2 separate regions of the Homo sapiens genome follow, and region 1 is linked to region 2. Evidence: fine-mapped expression QTL. A gene starts in region 2. The other region holds a variant in brackets. All regions are shown on one strand. Distances are between the middles of the regions.

The links.
Region 1: its variant is fine-mapped to the expression of SLC41A2 in monocytes (BLUEPRINT, PIP 0.95).

What each region holds. Positions count from the first base shown.
Region 1 is chr12:104,740,141-104,748,140 of GRCh38, reverse strand. The region is part of intron 2 of CHST11 (carbohydrate sulfotransferase 11); the gene reads right to left. Among named protein-coding and RNA genes, the nearest start is that of MIR3922, 150 kb to the right of the region's middle. RefSeq lists enhancers at 4,771-5,392, 7,099-7,148. The variant AAATAAATAAATAAATG/G (reference allele first, on the strand shown) is at 3,281.
Region 2 is chr12:104,951,815-104,963,125 of GRCh38, reverse strand. SLC41A2 (solute carrier family 41 member 2) reads left to right here and starts at 4,836. Exons shown (of 11, transcript NM_001352171.3): 1 at 4,836-5,038. RefSeq lists silencers at 4,658-4,927, 5,118-5,447.

The sequences.
Region 1 (8,000 bases), 210 kb after region 2:
TCTCGCTTTGATCTCTCAAAAGTATAAATTAGGTCAGAGGAGGGCTGATTCTAGGAAACCGTGAACATGGCTCCGGGCTCTGGGCTGTGTCCTGCATTCTCGTTTAGATGTCTATTTTTAATTTGGACATTTATAAAAGGCAACCATAATTAGTTTAAGTAACAAATTTAGGGACTGTTTGAAAAAGTCTTTAAAATTTTACTACGTTTCATCTTAAAAGGAAGAGCTGGTTTCCCTTAAATTAAAACATTACTGCAGCGTTTGCAATTTCCCTCAGACACAAGAACCCAAACAGGAGGAAGAGAGGTCGCCCCCTTTGACTGTCTCGGGGTGGGCAGAGTCGGGGGACATGCAGGCAAATAGACCCAGAGAAACAGGTACATTTGGAAGCATTAAGTGACTGAGGGTTTTCTGAATCTGCCTTTAACAACTGTTAGCTTGGGTCTAGCCTCAGTTTCTCCACTTAAAAATCTGAATGCAAAACCCCTCTCAGCATGTCAGTTGTGCTGCCATCATCTTTCTGTTTCAGAATTGGGGGAGGGGGAGGAGCACCTGATGAGCTGATTTGCTCTGATTATATGACGTTTCTTTCTGGCAGAGGAATTACTAAACTCTCATGAAAAGGGCTAGTCATGAGGAATCACCGAAGACACCACATCCACAGCAAAAAAAGGGTCACATATTTATACTAGCTACCATATATTGAGCACTTACTATGTACCAGCTACTGTTGATCTTCACACTCTATGAGGTAGGTATCATTAGTATTTTCAACTTGTGGATAAGGAAACAGGCACAGGGAGAATAATTAACTTGCTCAAGCTCAGGGAGCTAGGAACCGGGTCTGGGGTTCGAGTCCAGGCAGACTGTGGTCTGAGACCCTGCATGGTGCAGCCTCCTGGGGTCTGGAGACCCACCCGGGAGTTATCGGCTCCCGGGCAGCCGCTGGAGGCGTGGGTCTCAACCCTAGCAGCTCACTGGGATCATAGGAGAGCTTTAAACACTGAGGACTGAGTCCCACCCCAGAGATCTGTTATATTTAATTGCTCCTGGAAATCTGAGGCTGCCCGGGTGGGACTCCACTATTTCAGGGGCTCCAATGCCAGGAGCTATAAGCTAAAGCAAAGAACTGGACTGGAGTGGTGACCGGCATATGATCTTGGGCCAGTTTCACCTTCCTGGTCCTCAGGTTTAAGATAGGGGACTTTTCATTCAGTAGAGCCAGGGGTCAAAGGTCTAGAAGGTCACAGGTCTCAGACATCTTTGGGTGCATTTTAGGGGAAGCACTAAGAATTACATAATGCTCAAAACCTCTTAGGTTTAGAAAAGAAAGGAGAAAAATATTGGGCCTTTAAAGAAACGATCTGGTCTGGACCTGGTACAAAACGTAAAGGGTTTAGGAAAGAAGTGGCTTCATGTTAACTGACATTAACGTTGTCAGGGAAATTGGTTTCTCTGGATTGTAACTTGTCACTAGGGAAGCACCTGTTTGACTGCAAGGAACAACAACTGAATCTCTGCAGAAGCTTTGCCTTCCTTTCCAAGGCAAAAGGAAGAAGGAAAATGCACCGTGGCTGGAAAGCATTTTGAGCCCTGAAGGTGAGGTAGGAGGCTCTGGGTGATAGTGATGGAGGGCCTGGTGTTGGCCTCTGGATCAGCCCCCAAGCCAGCCTCAGCTGACACTGGCACAGGTGGGTGATAGTTCTGAGCTCCATTTTAACCTTGGGATCTTTATAGGCAGAAAAAAATGAGCAGAAAGGAAAGCCCAGGATTTGCTGAGCAATGAGAAAGGGTTGTTTCACCCTAGTGTAGTTAAAGTACTTCTTTTGTAGGCAGGGTTTATATTGGGTGACCTGGGTTAGAGTCACAAACTCAAAGGCTCTCCAGAACCATCAGGAAATAGAAATGAATGGCCTCGGCACCTTGAATGGGAATGAACCCAGTCAGCGTCCACTGGGCCACTGAAGGTGGCTGATGCCACATAGATCTCACTGATACCGTCATTAGGGAATTGAGGACCTGGTCTTTCGAGATGTTTCAATTTCTCAAGAGAAGTCAGAATTCAAACCCAGAGCCAACATCATACTAAACGGGCAAAAGCTGGAAGCATTCCCCTTGAAAACCAGCACAAGACAAGGATGACCTCTCTCACCACTCCTATTAAACATAGTATTGGAATTTCTGGCCAGGGTGATCAGGCAAGAGAAGGAGATAAAGGACATTTGAGTAGGAAGAAAGGAAGTCAAACTACCCCTGTTTGCAGATGAGATGATCCTACATCTAGAAAACCCTGTTGTCTGAGCCCAAAAGCTTCTTAAGCTGATAAACAACTTCAGCAAAGTCTCAGGATACAAAATCAGTGTACAAAAATCACTAGCACTCTCATACACCAACAATAGTCAAGTCAAGAGCCAAATCAGGAATGAACTCCCATTCACAATGGCCACAAAAAGAATAAAATACCTAGGGATACAGCTAACCAGGGAGGTGAAAGATCTCTATGATGAGAACTATAAGCCACTGCACAAAAAAATCAGAGATGACACAAACAAATGGAAAAATATTCCATGCTCATGGATAGGAAGAATCAATATCATTAAAATGGCCCTACTGCCTAAAGCAATTTATATATTCAATGCTATTCCTATTAAACTACCACTGACATTTTTCACAGTACTAGACAAAAGTATTCTATAATTCATATGGAACCAAAAAAGAGCCCGAATAGCCAAGGGAATCCTAAGCAAAAAGAACAAAGCTGGAGGCATCAGCTACCCTACTTGCTATTCTACAGGGCTATAGTAACCGAAACGGCATGGTACTGGAACAAAAACAGACACATAGACCAATGGAACAGAATAGAGAACCCAGAAATAGGACCACACACCTACAACTATCTGATCTTCAGCAAACCTGACAAAAACAAACAATGAGGAAAGGATTCCCTATTCAATAAATGGTGCTAGGGGCCGGGCGTGGTGGCTTATGCCTGTAATCCCAGCACTTTGGGAGGCTGAGGCAGGCAGATCACTTGAGGTCAGGAGTTCGAGAACAGCCTGGCCAACACGGCGAAACCCGGTCTTTACTAAAAATACAAAAATTACCCAGGCATGATGGTGGGCACCTGTAATCCTAGCTACTTGGGAGGCTGAGGCAGGAGAATTGCTTGAACCTGGGAGGCGGAGGTTGCAGTGAGCCGAGATCATGCCATTGCACTCCAGCCTGGGCAAGAGAGCAAGACTCTGTCTCAAAAAATAAATAAATAAATAAATAAATAAAT[AAATAAATAAATAAATG/G]ATGCTGGGATAACTGGCTGTCCCTATGCAGAAGATTAAAACTGAATCCCTTCCTTACACCACAGACATAAATTAACTCAAGATGGATTAAAGACTTGTATGTGAAACCCAAAACTATAAAAACCCTAGAAGACAACCTAGGCGATCCCACTCAGGACATACACACGGGAAAAGACTTCATGATGAAGATACCGAAAGCAATTGCAACAAAAGCAAAAACTGACAAGTGGGATCTAATGTAACTAAAGGGCTTCTGCACAGCAAAAGAAACTATCAACAGAGTAAACAGACAACCAATAACAGAACGGGAGGAAATTTTTACGAACTATGCATCCGACAAAGGTCTAATATCCAGCATCTATAAGGAACTTAAACAAATTTACAAGAAAAAAACAACCCCATAAAAAAGTGGGCAGAGGATGTGAACAGACAGTTTTCAAAAGAAGACATACATGAGGCCAACAATCATACAAAAAAAAGTTCCGCATCACTGATCATTAGAGAAATGCAAATCAAACCCACAATGAGATACCATCTCACACCAGTCAGAATGGCTATTACTAAAAAGTCAAAATAACAGATGCTGGCAAGGTTGCGGAGAAAAAGGAACACTTATACACTGTTGGTGGGAGTGTAAATTAGTTCAACCATTGTGGAAGACAGTGTGTCAATTCCTCAAAGACCTAAAGACAGAAATACCATTTGACTCAGCAATCCCATTACTGGGTATATACCCAAAGGAATATAAATCATTCTATTATAAAGACACATGCACACATGTGTTCACTGCAGCACTGTTTACAATAGCAAAGACATGGAATCAACCTAAATGCCCAATAATAGTCTGGATAAAGAAAATGTGGTACATATATACCATGGAGTACTATGCAGCCATAAAAAAAGAGAGATCATGTCCTCTGCTGGGACATGGATGGAGCTGGAGGCCATAATCCTTAGCAAACGAATGCAGAACAGAAAACCAAATGCCACATGTTCTCACTTATAAGTGGGAGCTAAATGATGAGAACACATGGACACAGAGGGGAACACTCAGTGGGGCCTTTTGGAGGGTGGAAGGTGGGAGGAGGGAGAAGATCAGGAAAAACAACTAATGGGTACTGGGTTTAATACTTGGGTGATGAAAGAATCTGTACAACAGACCCCCATGACCCAAGTTCACCTATGTAACAAACCTGCATATGTGCCCCTGAACTTAAAAGTTAGAAAAATATAAATTAAAAAAAGAGAAGTCAGAATATTAGGTTTCATGTGATATCTCTGTATTCTTAAATGTTAGCTACAATCATTTTAGTGGTGTGAGCCGAACCATCCCTGTAGGGTTGGTGCCTCCCCCAGGTGTTTGAGGATAGTAAGGGGGTGCCTTCCTCTGGCTGCTCTCAGCCCCCACTGCCTCCAGCCCAGCTGCCCCTGCTCACTTAGTGGAACCTGTGGGCAACTGCAAGAGAAAGACAAGGCGGAACCAGCCAGACTGTGGGAGTCCCTGGGTGCAGTTAGGAAGGCTCACACTCAGTGGTGGATATTAAGAGACACCTCTGGAACCTCAGCTCTCCCATCCCCTTCCCTGCTTCCCTTTTCTTTGTAGTACTTATCTCCTTAGTTTATCTCAATTTACTTATTTTGCTGGTCTCTCCCTTCTTGAACGTTAACTCTGAGATGGCAGGTAGTTTTCACTAATTTTTGTTCACTGTTGTATTCCCAGTGCTTCACATACGGTGGACACTGAAAGCTTTGTTGAATGCATGAATGACTTTGGGACAGCAGGGATTGTTCGGGTCACAAGACGGCCAATGAGGCCTCGTGGGCTTCCTGTGCCTAAACCCGCAGCCCCCACCTCATCTTCTGGTGGAGATTTCTGGCTTAGAGCCTGTGGCTGCCACACAGGAGCTTAGCATCAGCTCTGGGGCTGGAGGCCAAGAGAGAAGAGCGGGGACTCTCAGCCCTGGGTAGAAATGCAACAGCTTTTGATGAGGGAGGGACGCTGGCACTTTCCACCCGTCTGGTGAGGCCAAGAAACAAGAGGAGGGGAATCAAATCACGCTGGAGGGGGAGGGCGCCAAGGGCTGCCCAGGAAGGACTTGGTCTGAGGCTGTGTGGTACCCCCGGGGCTCCCTTTCAGCCAGGCCAGGTGCAGCTGGAAGGGCCTTATTGACATCTCAGATCAGCTGTTTGGGCTTCCGGAGGCCTGGGCAGGGTGCCGGAGGGGGGCAGGAATAGGAATGGGGCTGCTGCCAAGCTGGCCTGCTTTCCGATGAATGGTGGCCCGGAACAGGAACAACGGTGAGGAAGGGATGCAGCTCCCACACTGCTTGGGAAATCAGAAGTAAGGGCAGGCAGGCTGAGCACCTGCTGGCTAGTGCTTTGGGGTCCTCGGAAGTCGCTGCTGGCAGGAGTAGGGGAGGAGGAGCATGGGTCCACTGAGCAGTCCCGGGTGGCTTACCCCTCCCCTAGCCAGGGAGGCCGTCAACCTCCCCTACCACGATGGGCCTCCCAGAGGGTGATGCTCTTGGGAGGCAGGGGCTTGCCTCCCTTCAGGATCTCCTCCTGGCCTCTCCCTTCTTTGAACCAGTTGGCTTCATTGGTTCTCTTCCCAGACTGACCAGAATATTCTACTTCTATTTTGGCCTAATCACTTGAGCCCTTCAGGCCTTAGTTTCCTCATCTGCAAAATGGGGACAACAATAAAGTCTACTTCTCAGGGTCATTTTGAGGATTAGATGAGAGCCCACAAGGAAAGCACATAGCATGGTACCTGGCACATAGTAGGCACTCAGGAAGTAGCTACTGTAAACCTTACAGAGGGTGGTTTCCCAAGTGCCGGGGGCAGGATAGCAGGAATGTTGCTTTGCCTTTCACCTGACAGCATTTCTCAATGTTCAGTGTATGTAAGAATCACAGCGGGAATCTGATGCAATGCGGGTTCCCAGACACCACCCTGAGTAATTCTGGTTCAGTGGGTCGGGCTGTCCTGGGAACCTGCTCTTGATCGCTGCCCCGTGATGATTCTATCAGGCCAATTCTGAGGCTGGTGGTCTCTGTTTCACTTTGAGAACTGATGATTGAGCGTCGCTTTTACATGAGCGGGTTCTGCAGTGAACGCCAAACACATTTGTCATCTGTGCAAAATGCCTGGCTCATGGCGACTTAATATCTCACTGACACAGAAGACCGATAGAGGCAATTGGCGGCAACTTAGATTGGCAGCTGTTAAGCAAATTGGAGGTCTGAAGAGCAATTTTCTGGCAATATCAAGATTAGCTATTAATATGTATTAACAGACTGTAAAGGATTCATGGAATTTCACAGTAACTGAACTATGAATTGAGAGGCACCCAAAGAGGTCCATTTATTTCTTAGTCAAGCAGCATGTTTTAACAATACCCGATTTCTCCATTGTTCCAAAGGCACGCATGAGCCATGCTCTGGGCCTTTCGTTTCTGCATGTTGCATGCTTCCAGTGAGAGGAAGGCTGGTCCTCCCCCAAGAGAGAGGTGGAGCTAGTTCTGCAGATGGGGCTCCAAAGCCCTCCTCCTACCCCTGCCTGGAAGACACCCTCGTTCTCTCCCCAGTAACCACCACCACCAAGCCTGGGGCCCCAACGGAGCCATTTCCACCACCTTTACCTTCACCCCTTTGCCTCAACCTGCTCCATCCTGATCATAGTTAATGTCACTATGAACAATGTGAGCTCAACTCATGCCCTCCCTCCAGGGCAGCTGGGATAAGGCCCAGGTATCTCAGTGTCCCAGGCACTTGGTGCCCAATACTTGCAGAATTCAGAAAAGGGTGATTAGCTTTGTGGCAACACATGAACATCTTTGCAGAGTACTAAGAAGATTTTGTTTATCACTTCACTGCCTTTTTCCTCTTTCAAGAAGGACGGCCCATTCTCAATCATAGTGAAAGTGGAACAGGAAGACCATCGTGGAGTGCTAGAGGGACAAGCACGTCTAAATCCATCCATCTGCTGTTCACTGAGGAAGTCAGACATCTCTGCGGCTTCTTAGGCCATGGCCGAGGACATGAAGATACAGATATCCAGGAACAGAGTCACACACAATGGCAGGGACACAGACCCGGGGCCCAGAGGTGAATAAGACACCCTCAATTGCATGACATCAGAGGTATTAATATTCTTCTGCCTGTAGAGCTTTCAAATAATTTTGCATCTCAGAGTCCTTAGAACCCAGAACTTCAGAGTTACAAAATACCTTTGTGATTATCTGATACCACCCTCTGATTTTCAGATGGCAAAACTGAGGCCCAGAGATGAGAGCTCATCCACCCACTCCCAGAAAGCAGCAGAGCAAAGACTGGAACCCAAATATGCCTTTTTGTTGTGCTGCTGGACAGCAGAGCAAAAAGAGGGATTTTCTCCTTCTATCCACCCAGCAGCCCTTGTTGGAGGTGCAGGGATGGATTCCAGGGCAGAGTGAGAGGGCAGGGAGTGTCATCTGTGTGGTGCCATAACATTCCTATGAAATAGAAAAACCATCTTTGCTACCTTCCATCAACCTCAGAGGAGTATTTTGACAACACATGTAGATTTATGATCAATGGAAATTATAAAACTAAAAAGAAGTGAGTGACCCATTTTATTATCCAGAATAGGGAACGTGGGATAGGTCCCCCTGGGCTGGCCTGATTTCAGAGCTCATTAAAGAAAAGTGAGGCAAGAACTGGGAA
Region 2 (11,311 bases):
ATGTATCAGAGTCCAGTGCTTTTCCTCTGTGCCCACCTTGGGCTGGGCTACCATCCCTCTCATCGGGATTATCACAAAAGCCTCCTCAGGGGTCTTCCTGCTTCCGCCCTGGCTTCCGCACTTGGCTCTCCACAGTGATCCCACTGAAATCTAAGTCACAGGGGGCCACTTCCACTGAGATCCTTTTAGTGGCCCTCACCTTGCTCAGAGTCAAAGCCAATGGCCTGCAAGCCCTGCCCCTAGCCACTTCTCTGACTGCATCTGCAAATCTAATTTTTTCTTTTTTTTCCCTGGAGTCTCACTCTGTTGCCCAGGCTGGAGAGCAGTGGTGCAATCTTGGCTCACTGCAACTTCCACCTCCCGGGCTCAAGTGATTCTCATGCCTCCTGAGTAACTGGGACTACAGGCATGCACCACCAGGCTCGGCTAATTTTTGTATTTTTGGTAAAGACGGGGTTTCACCATGTTGGCCAGGCTGGTCTCGAATTCCTGACCTCAAGTGATCCGCCCACCTCAGCCTCCTAATGTGTTGGGATTACTGGCGTGAGCCACAGCACCTGGCCTGCAAATTTAATTTTGCTTCATCTCAACCACTTGATTACTTCACTACAGACACAGGAGACTCCTTGCTGTCTCCTGAACACAACATACACACTCCTGTCTTAGGACCTTTGTGCTTGCTGTACTTTCCCCAGGTATTATTACTGTTCCCTCACTCCTTTTTGTTCAAGCCATCAAGGTCTCCCTGGATTAGTTTATATAAAACAGTCCCCGCTCCTCTCCACACCTTCCCCACCCCGCCCCCAAACTCTCTAACTCTTTAACTCTATTTCTTTTCATAGTAGTTATCACCATATACCTAGATATATATATTTGCTTATTTGTTTATTAGTTGTTTATTTTCTTTCCCCATTTGAACATGAACTCTGTAAGGCAGGCATTCCTTTATGTTGTTCAATACTGTATTCCCAGAGCATAGGACAAAATGTGGCATTTAGCTAAGTGCTCAAAAAATATTTATAAATGAATGAATGATGATTTATATTTGGCACAAAAGAGGCCCACAATAGCTACCTGTTGAATGAATGAACAAATGAGTATTGCAGAGATTCCCAGGAAGGGCACTGATAATGGGGGTAGGGGCAGAAACTAGCACATGTGTCTGGAACATTGGCTGCATGGGCTGCATGTCCCCTGAATGATGGTTTTTCTCTAGTTCTTTTTCTTTGTGGGCATTTATATGGTTTGTGGGACCACTTTTAAGTAGGCCACATGGTGGTTCTTGAGCCTCAGTGATCACCAGAAATATCCATAGAGATTCTTATTTAATGGGTCTGAGGTAGGTCTTGGGAATTTGAGTAACTTTGAGCAAGGATTTAACCCTCAGTTTCCTCGTATGTAAAATGGGATTATAACATCATTTTATAGAGTGTCAAGATTAAAGAAAATCATCTGTGCGAAGTGTCTCACACATAGTAAATATTAGATTCCCTTTGCTTCTGCTCAGGTTTTTGTTTTTGTTTTTGAGATGGAGGCTAGCTCTGATGCCCAGGCTGGAGTGCAGTGGCGCAATCTTGGCTCACTGCAACCTCCACCTCCCAGGTTCAAGTGATTCTCATACCTCAGCCTCCTGAGTAGCCGAGACTACAGGTTCACGCCACCACACCTGGCTAATTTTTGTATTTTTAGTAGAGATAGGGTTTCACCATGTTGGCCAGGCTGATCTCCAACTCCTGACCTCGAGTGATCCACCTGACTCAGCTTCCCAAAGTGCTCGATTACAGGCATGAGCCACCACACCTGGCCTGCTCAGGTTTTCTCTGAAGTTTAGAGGTTAAATCTTATGAACAGTTCATATTATGTGCTCTCCTAAAATTTAGTTTTGATTCACCTCAATCCAGATCTCTACTCTGAGTTGCAGTTTTTCAAACATAGAGTCAGTATCTTCATTTGAATGTCTCATAGGGGTATCAAACTCAACATATATAAAGCAACTCAAAATTGTCCCCTTCTGATCTCCTCCTCCACATTTCCCAAATCAGGAAATGGCATAAACTCAAATTAGAAACTTGGGAGTCATTTTTTGACACTTTTTCGCCTTTACCTTCCATGCATTTGATCAAATCCTTACAGTTCTAACCCTGACCTATATCTTCAATCCACCATCATCTCCTAATCTCCATTGCCTGCAAACTGGTTGTCACACATCCTCTGTTGCACCCTTCTTATTAATTCTCCACTCTGCAGCCGGAATAATCTCTTTTTTTTTTTTTTTTTTTTTTTTTTAAGAGACAATGTCTCACACTCTGCTGCCCAAGCTGGAATGCAGAGGCACGATCATAGCTCACTGCAGCCTCGAGCTCCTGGGCTCAGTCAGGTGCGTGCCACCAAGCCTGGCTAATTTTATTTTATTTTTGTAGAGATGGGGGTCTTGCAATGTTGCCCAGGCTGGTCTCAAACTCCTGGCCTCTAGTGATCCTCCCACCTCAGCCTCCCAATGTGCTGGGATTACAGGTGTGAGCCACTGCATCCAGGATCATCTTTTACAAATGCAATTTTTCATGTCCAGATAGGACCTTTTCAACTCTTCATTGGCTTCTTTTGTCTTTAGGATTAAATCCAAAGTCCTTAACCTGACCCTCAAGGGCCCGCCCACCTCTCCCTCCCAGGTAGCTCTCTCAGTCTAAGCACAGTGGCCTTTTCCCAAAGCCTTCACAGACAGAGCCTCTTCCTACCAAAGGGCCTTCAAACCTGCAGTTTCCACAGCTAAATGCACTGCCCACCCCACCCCCTTCTCTATGTTGCCTGCCCTAACTCCTCCTTATTCTTCAAGGCTGAGATTAAATGTCACTTCCTCCAGGAGATCTTTCTTACCCCCTAGCACAGACACGCTCCTTTGTTATACACTCTCATAACTCTCAGGCTTTTTTCCAGCAATCACAACAGCATCACCACACAGCCTCAAGTCCAAGCCACTTGCTTCACATTTGAAGTTGCCAGCTGTCAGACGGGAGATGAAGTAGAAATGGGATTGTTGTTGTCTGCACCCATTAGGACCCAGTTTTTTACAAGGGGGCATTTCCTCGCCCGATTCCAATGTGAGTTATTTTCAGGGCTGAAATTTGATTTAAATTTGGATTCCAACTTGAAGCTTAACATATCTCCAAAGTACACACTACTTTGCGGTACTGAATGAAGAATGTAAGTAGAAGGTTGCCTGCCACATGCCATGTAATGCTCTGAAGGACGGTAGAAACCACCAGCTCTCTCAGAAAAAAATGGTGGAAGAATTTTCAAAACCAAGACAGGCTGGCTTCTGTATATGCTTTGTGTAGAAATCTTGAAAGACTACACACTCAGGGGAGGAACACATATTGGGTGGAACTTCTGCCAAACTTTCAAGAGCAGCTACTTTCTAATGATCTGTAATTCAAAAAACAACCAGAACAAAAACCAGCTGGAAATGCAGTCAAAACACTGCTTTTCCATATTCCTTGCAATTATACTTTCATTTTTAGGTGGTGAGGAACACCAGGATGAGTCATTATAAAAAGCATGACTGCAGATGGCCAAGAGTGATACCGAAGCACCCTTCACCCTGAAGGTTAAGGTTAAAGCTCAAAGTCTGATCGCAAAGCATAAGGAAAAAAAAAAAGAACATGGATAAATGTATGCTGGTGTCCTTCAGCACCAGAAAAGCTGCTACTAAATCACTGGTGTGGCTTGGAATTGGTAGAAGCTTTGATTTGAGGAAAAGAGTATCATTAGCTGTGTAATTTTGAGTTGTTGTTTTAGAGACAAGGTCTCATTTTGTGGCCCAGACTGGAGTGCAGTGATGCGATCATAGCCCGCTGCAGCCTTGAACTCCTGGGCTCAGGCGATCCTCCCACCTCAGTCTCCTAGCCACTCCAGGTCTCGCTGTGTTTGCCCAGGCTGGTCTCAAATTCCTGGCCTCAAGCGATCCTCTCGCCTGGTCCTCCCGAAGTGTTGAGGTTACACGCATGAGCCACCAATCCTGGCATTATGGCATTAGCTGTGTAATTTTTAAAATAACTGTCTTCGGACCAACACCTTTCTTTTGTTCACTGGAGTATCCCTGGGGTGTGTCTCATTCCCTGAATCATACACAGTAGATGCTCAATAGTTTTGTAAATAAAATAAATGAGCTCTCGGATTTACATGCAGACTTTGGATCAGTTTGATCTAGGTTTAAAAGCAAGTGTGGGGAAACTTGAAAAGCCTGGCACCCCAGCCAACTCTTCAGCGCCCCATGCGCTTGGCGCCTACACCTGCCTGGCACGGGGAGGGTGCTATGGGGCTGCCCTAAACCTCACCCCCTCCTGCGGTGGTTCCTGCCCGTCTCGGCTCCTGCACCGCCCACACTATGCGCTGCTGGGCCGAAAGACACGTGGTTCGGTTTTAACTCCAGTCTGCAAGAAACATGACCTCAGCCAAAAAGAGGCCGCTGGTCTGAGAAGAGAAATCATGAGTCATGGATTCGGGGGTTCGGACCTTGGAGCAGGCGGTGAAGTGGGCGTGCGTGGGCTGGTGGGGAAGAGGGATGCCGAAGGAGGCCACAGCCCTTCTCTCCTGGGCAGGCTCCCCAGAAAACTGCCCCCTTGCCGTCATCCAGCGCCCCCGTTCCCGACAGCTGTCTGCCAGGGCGCGGCCGGGGTCCGGGCGGGGCGGTGCTGTCGCTCCGGGTCGCCGCCCCGCGGGCCACATCACCAAGGCCCGGGCTTCCCCGGCGGCGGCGCGGCTGCGCTTGCGCGGGGCTGCCGCGCGGGGGCGGGGCGGCGGGGAGTCAGGGGGCCGCGGGCGCCGACGGCCGGGCTGTCAGCTTGGGGCCGCAGCCGCGCGAGGAGGCGCGGGAGCAGGAAGGAGCTGTGGGCTGGGAGCCGCTGTCCTCCCCGCCACCACCGGTGCCGGGCACCAGGTGAATGCCCCTTCCATCCCCCGCCCCTGGTGTCTCGGTCTGGTCTGAGGAGACGGGGACCCTTCTCACACCGGCCGCTGCCGCCGCCGCGCTCCGGAACAGGTGACCATGGAGGGGAAGTCTCGGCTTCGGCCGCGGCGCCGCGTTCGGGCGCATCAGGTGCGGGAGGGAGGTGGGGCCGAGAGGCCTGGGCTCGGGACCCGGCGGCGGGGGCGCGGGGAGCAGAGGGAGCGGCCCCGCCCGAGCAGCCGTGCCCCCTGCGGACGCCTCTCCGGGCCGCCGGGCAGCGCCCGAGCCCAGGCCCCCGCGCCTGCCCCACCTCGGGCTGAGGGAAGCTGTTCCGCGGCCACCGCGGACAAGCGGTCCCGGGCGCCCAAGGCAGGGACAGGCGGCGGGTGGTGTATGAGTGATGGCTGAAGGTGAGCTGGGATGGAGATGCTGCGAGGCTGGCTCGGGCACACCCCAGATGCCTGTTCAGGGCTCCGCGAGTGCCCCGTCACCCTTTTCTTTCATTCTTCTCTTTATATACACGGAGCATATCTCAAATTTAAAAGCCCAAATGCTCATTTACAGAGAGAGATGACACATATCTATGTGTTACCGATATACATTGATGTGTATATTACGTATATATGTCATCTTTTTTTTGTAGTGACAATTTTTAAATTGAGATATACATCACATGCCATAAAACTCATTCTTCTAAAGTGTGGCTTTTAATATATTCACAGAGTTTTCCAAATATGACCACTATCCAGATCATCATCCCCAAAAGAAACCCTGTCTCTCTTAGTAATCACTCCTCATTTCCCCTTGACCCCACCCCACTAGCCACCACTAATCTACTTTCTGTTTATATGGGTTTGCCTGTTGTGGAAATCTCATATAAATGGAAGCGTACAATATGTGGCTTTTTGTGTCTGGCGTCGAAAGACATACTGTAATGTTTTCAAGTTTCACTCATGTAGTATGTATCAGTACTTTACTTTTTATAGCATATTAATATTGTTGTATCAGTGTACCACATTTGTTTATTCATCAGTTGATGTACATTTGGGTTGTTTCCAGTTTTTGGCCATTGTGTGTAATGCTGCTATGCACATTTGTTTACACGTTTTTGTGGACATGTGTTTTCAGTGCTCTTGGGTATATACCTAGGAGGGCAATTGCTCCGTGTTTCACTTTTTGAGGAACTGCCAAGCAAAGCAGCTGTACCATTTTACTTTCCCACTAAGCAGTGTATGAGGGTTCCGATTTCTTCACATCTTCCCCAAGGCTTGTTACTTTTTTACTGGTTATTTTTTATGATAGCCATCGTAGTGAGTGTGGAATGGTATCTCTTTGTGGTTTTGATTTGCATTTCTCTAATGATTGGGGATGCTGAGCATCTTTTCATGTGCTTATTGGCCATTCATATATTTTCTTTGGAGAAAATGTTCATATCTTTTACCCATATTTTAATTGGGTTGCTTGGCTTTTTATTTTTATTTATTTATTTATTTATTTATTTGGAGACTGACTCTCAGTCTGTCACCCAGGCTGGAGTGCAGTGGCACAATCTTGGCTCACTGCAACCTCCACCTCCGGGGTTCAAGCGATTCTCCTGCCTCAGCCTCCCAAGTAGCTGGGACTACAGGCACACACCACTATGCCCGGCTAATTTTTGTATTTTTAGTAGAGACGTGGTTTCACCATGTTGGCCAGGTTGGTCTCCAACTCCTGAATTCAAGTGATCTGCCCACCTCGGCTTCCCAAAGTGCTGGGATTACAGGCATAAGCCACCACGGCCAGTCTGGGTTGCTTAGCTTTTTATTGAGTTTTATTGTTCATTTATGGAAAAAAATTTCTGTTAATAGGTTTGGATACTGGCACTGACTTGAAAAAATCCAACCAATCTGATACCGAAAAACTTAATGCTTATTCTTGGGTAAAGGTTGAATAAGTGCCACTTCATTCTTTAAGAATACCCTACCTGTTCATTCTGGACATCTTACTGACCCCTTTACATTTACTGCCCTGGTATTTTGAGCAAAGCTACAGAAGGCATATTCCTGACTGGAGTCAAGAGAGACCACCCTTAATTGGTATTTTCATATATTCTATGCTCAATTTGAAAATCCCAGTTATCACTTTAATTACAAAAAATTTATATTAGTGGCCAGCTGAACAAACTAACAATAAATGGCAAGCACAAATCACTCAAAAATTTATGTTTAACTTCTCAGTAAAGTGGAGAATCTTGTTTTCTTAAGTTTGTGCAGTGTAGTTTTTATTACAATTATGTTCATGTGTGGGTGGTAAATAAATATTTTTGATGGCACTAAAGTTAAGAGCCACTTACAGCTAAATGAATGCTGCTGTGCTTATTTCATGGTTAATTTCCGAGCGCACACAAATTCAGCATCAGGTCTTTCATGGCCAAAAAAAAAAAAACCACTAAAAAGACCTGATGTTACCTCCCAGGAATTCAAACTCAATTTTCCACTGATCTAATATGATTGTTGTTAAAGAAAAAGATTATTCGATGATACTTGTTAAAATGTGGTAAAAAAAAGTCTATTCAGGACCATTGTGATAGGTAAAGGGACCATGGAATGGGATTTTGCAGTTTGGGAGGAAGACTAGGCTCAATTCTGAATACGGTGTGGGCAAATGGGAATTTATAGCCAAGGAGCAGTGTCATGGTCAGTGGACAGAAAAGTACTGAGAGGAAACACCGGGGGTAGTGGATATTCAGACCAAACCAACCTAACAGGATTCTTGCTGAAGACAGGCCAGAGTGATCAGACACCACCTGGGGGACAGTGGAAGCTGAGGAACCTAATCAGGTTGTGAGGGTAATCAGGTAGCGAGGGTAATCAGAAAGCGAGGGCCAGCTGGGTGCAGTGGTTCATGCTTGTAATCCCAGCACTTTGGGAGGCTGAGGCGGGCAGATCACCTGAGGTTGGGAGTTCGAGACCAGACTGGCCAACATGGTGAAACCCTGTCTCTCCTAAAAATACAAAAATTAGCCTGGTGTGCTGGCGGGCACCTGTAATCCCAGCTTCTCAGAAGGCTGAGGCAGGAGAATTGCTTGAACCCAGGAGGTGGTGGAAGTTGCAGTGAACCGAGATCACGCCACTGCACAGAGCAAAACTTCGTCTTAACTCAAAAAAAAAAAAAAAAAAAAAAAAGCAAGGGCCAAGAGTCAGGGGCTGTTGCTAAACTCACTTGACGAGGTTCTTTGATAAAACTGCATTTTACAAGGAAGTGCACAAATGGGCCTAGAAGGTTCAGGGGCCTGAGTAAAATTTCGTCAAGAAAAGAATCTTTCTCATTGTTGGAAAGTACACTTCCCAATTTCCAAAACTTTATAGAAAATACAAGTAAAGGTTTCCAAATGGAAATAATAGATAAGCAACTGATAAAAAGCATGTGAAGCATAGCCTAACTCTGCTTCAACCTATACATTACAAAATGATGGATATATGAATTAACCCTTTTATGCCACTGCCTTTATTTAGAAGAATGAGGCTGGTAATTTCGGGTTTATAACCCAAAATGTGTTTTTACTTTGTTTTAACTAATGAAATTATTATCAAACGTATTGAAAATATAAACTATCCAACCTAATATTGATTGTTACCAACTTACCCAATGGATATACAAATATCCTGCAGCTACAGATGTTTTCTCTGCCCGCTGGGGTTTTTAGTGGCGCTTATTGGGAAGGACTGAAAGTAGAGGGCAGTGACAATTGGGAATCGCTATGGAGATATCCCTGAGAAGTGATGGTCACAGCTGACCTGTCTCCTTTATGGTAGATGAGGGTAGGGACACTTTTTCTTCTCTCTGAACGTACTGCAGTTAGATTTATTTAGCTTAAAAATAACAAATACAGAAATATTTAGATGGAAATGACTAGAACTGTCAGTTATTCTATTTTAATGTGAATGGATTTAATCAGATTGCTTTCTTCTTGGTTAGCTACACTAAGGAAGTGGGAGTTTTGACTTGAGGAGGGATAGTAGATGTAAGTATTATGAGATCGTGGAACATTTTGGAATATTGGGCAAAGTTTGCCCTACTTCTAAAAGTGAGGATGTTAAAAAATGGAAAGCTTTAGATAGCATGAGGGATCTGAAAGATGAGAAAAGAAAAGCAAGAATGAAACAATTTGGAAGGAAAGATTGTAGGATATAAAGACAGATTCGACTTATTTAGACATTTTTGCCCAAGAAAAATGTCTAAATAGGAAAAGTGGAAACCTTTTCCTTCATTTGATCCCTCTTTCCTTTTGCCCCACCTTGCTGCTCCATGCTAACTGTTCTCCTAGGACCCAGAAATCAGACTGGGATTACTGTTGTTCATGTTGAAGCTTTCAAGTGTGCTAGTTACACCCCTTCTCTCTCCATATTCTAGTCAAATTGAGATCAGACTCAAGCCAGATAAGAATTTAAATACTATTAAAATAATAGTGTAATTTTCATTTCCGGTAAAGCTGGATTGGAGAACTGAGCTTAGACCCATGCTTACTGTTCTTTCTTAATTTACCTACCCAGATGAAACTGTTGCACCAGGAAATGGAAGGGAAAGTCCTGTCCTAAGGAGCTTATCTTATAGCAGTTAGAATGGAAAGGAAAACTTTCTCTCCTTGAGGGCACAGCAAGTCCAAGAAAGCCAGTGAGAGCTCACGGGTGGAGCCTGTCTGAACAGTTGACCTTTATACCTATCCTAGCAATTAGATAAGTCACTTTCCTGTGGGAGGAATTAGTGATGGGGGTGGAGAGAAAGAAAAGTGTTCCTTTAATCTTGTTTTCTCCTACTTAGAGGAGTGAAAGTTCTGTTGTCATTGCAGAGAGAAGTAAACAGCCATCCTCTCATAGTTAAGTATGTTATGGGAAATAAATAGTGTTTTGTAGGCTAGCCTAGGAACTAATTCACCATTTATAAAAATGAACTGACTGTATATTTTCCTTGGAAATAACTAAATCTCTTAGACACTTTTGAGTGATTATTTTATTGTGTAGTTAAATATATAGATTATTCAAGTCTATTTCCTTGTTTTACCAGTACTGGTTAAATATTTATGGAATGTCTAATACGTGACAGGCACTGGGCTAGGCTTTGGGATTCAGTGGTGAACAAGAATGGGTCCTTGCTCTAAGAGTTACAACCTAGAAAAACAGTTAGTACAAGTACCATTACGATAAAGCGTAATAAGCATTGGTTAAGTGTAGAGTGCTTTGGAACCACAGAAGAAGGAGAACTTATCTATGAGGGCCAGGGACATGGATGTTAAAGAGCTGAGATCTTAAGCTGAATAGGAAGTAGCTAGGTAAAAGGGAAGAGTGAGGTTGAGCAGAAGTGTTTTGAGCAAAAAGAACATGTGGAAAGGCCAAGAGGTGTGAGAATGTGGTACACTAAAGTGACATTTTTTTTCTTTAACTGCAGGCACCTACTAGTAGATTGTGAAAGCAAATTAGTGAGTTGTAATCCACATGTTTTTTAAAAGGAATACAATAGAAAATGAGGGTGTGCCACTCATAGATACTTACTGGATTGTAGGGGTAAGTAGGGGTGTTTATGCAGGATTTAGTTAACCTTATTAAAGAAGTTGGATTTATCTTAGAGGAAATGACAAATCATTGAAAAGTTCTAATCGGGGCCTGATTAGAGATCTTTAGAAAAAGGTCTCTTTGGGTACCTGGTCTTTCTTAACTCGGATGTAAACTTCAAATTCATTGGCCCAGCATTACAGGTATTCCAAAACCTGGTTCCAATCTATTTCTTGTAAAAAATCTTCCCACTATTTTTGTTATTGGAATTTCCCAGTTCATAAAGATTCGTTCGCCTAAGTACCTTTGCACCAAGACCAAAAGGTCTGTGAGAACAGATTTCACTTCTGTCCTTTAACATTGAGTCTCTGGCAACTAGTATAGTGCCTGGCTCACAATAGAGACTAAGCAAATCTTCGTTGATAGAGTCTAAATACCTTTAATATTAGGAACATTATGCAGTAGTAGACATGACGTTGCTGTTTCTGGTAATGTCTGCTTTGGGACAAAGAAAAAGTTTTCATTCAAATTTTTTTTCTCAGTTGAAATCATGTTAATGATAGAACTGCATACATTTATTAAAAAGATAATTTAACAGAGGGCATTCTTACATTGAAACAGTAGTAGAGATAATAAAAAGAACAATAAACATTGTGGTTTTGATGTTTTCCCAGGGAGTACAGTGACACAGATTGCTCACAGGAGCAGCCAATCCAGAAATCATTTCTGTTTTGTTTGAACTTAGAGGCATTCTCTGAGCACTCACCCAAAGGCAGTGTTAGAAAAATGGCTAAGGACAAAAGGAATAAATTATTAGGTTGGTGCAAAAGTAAGTGCA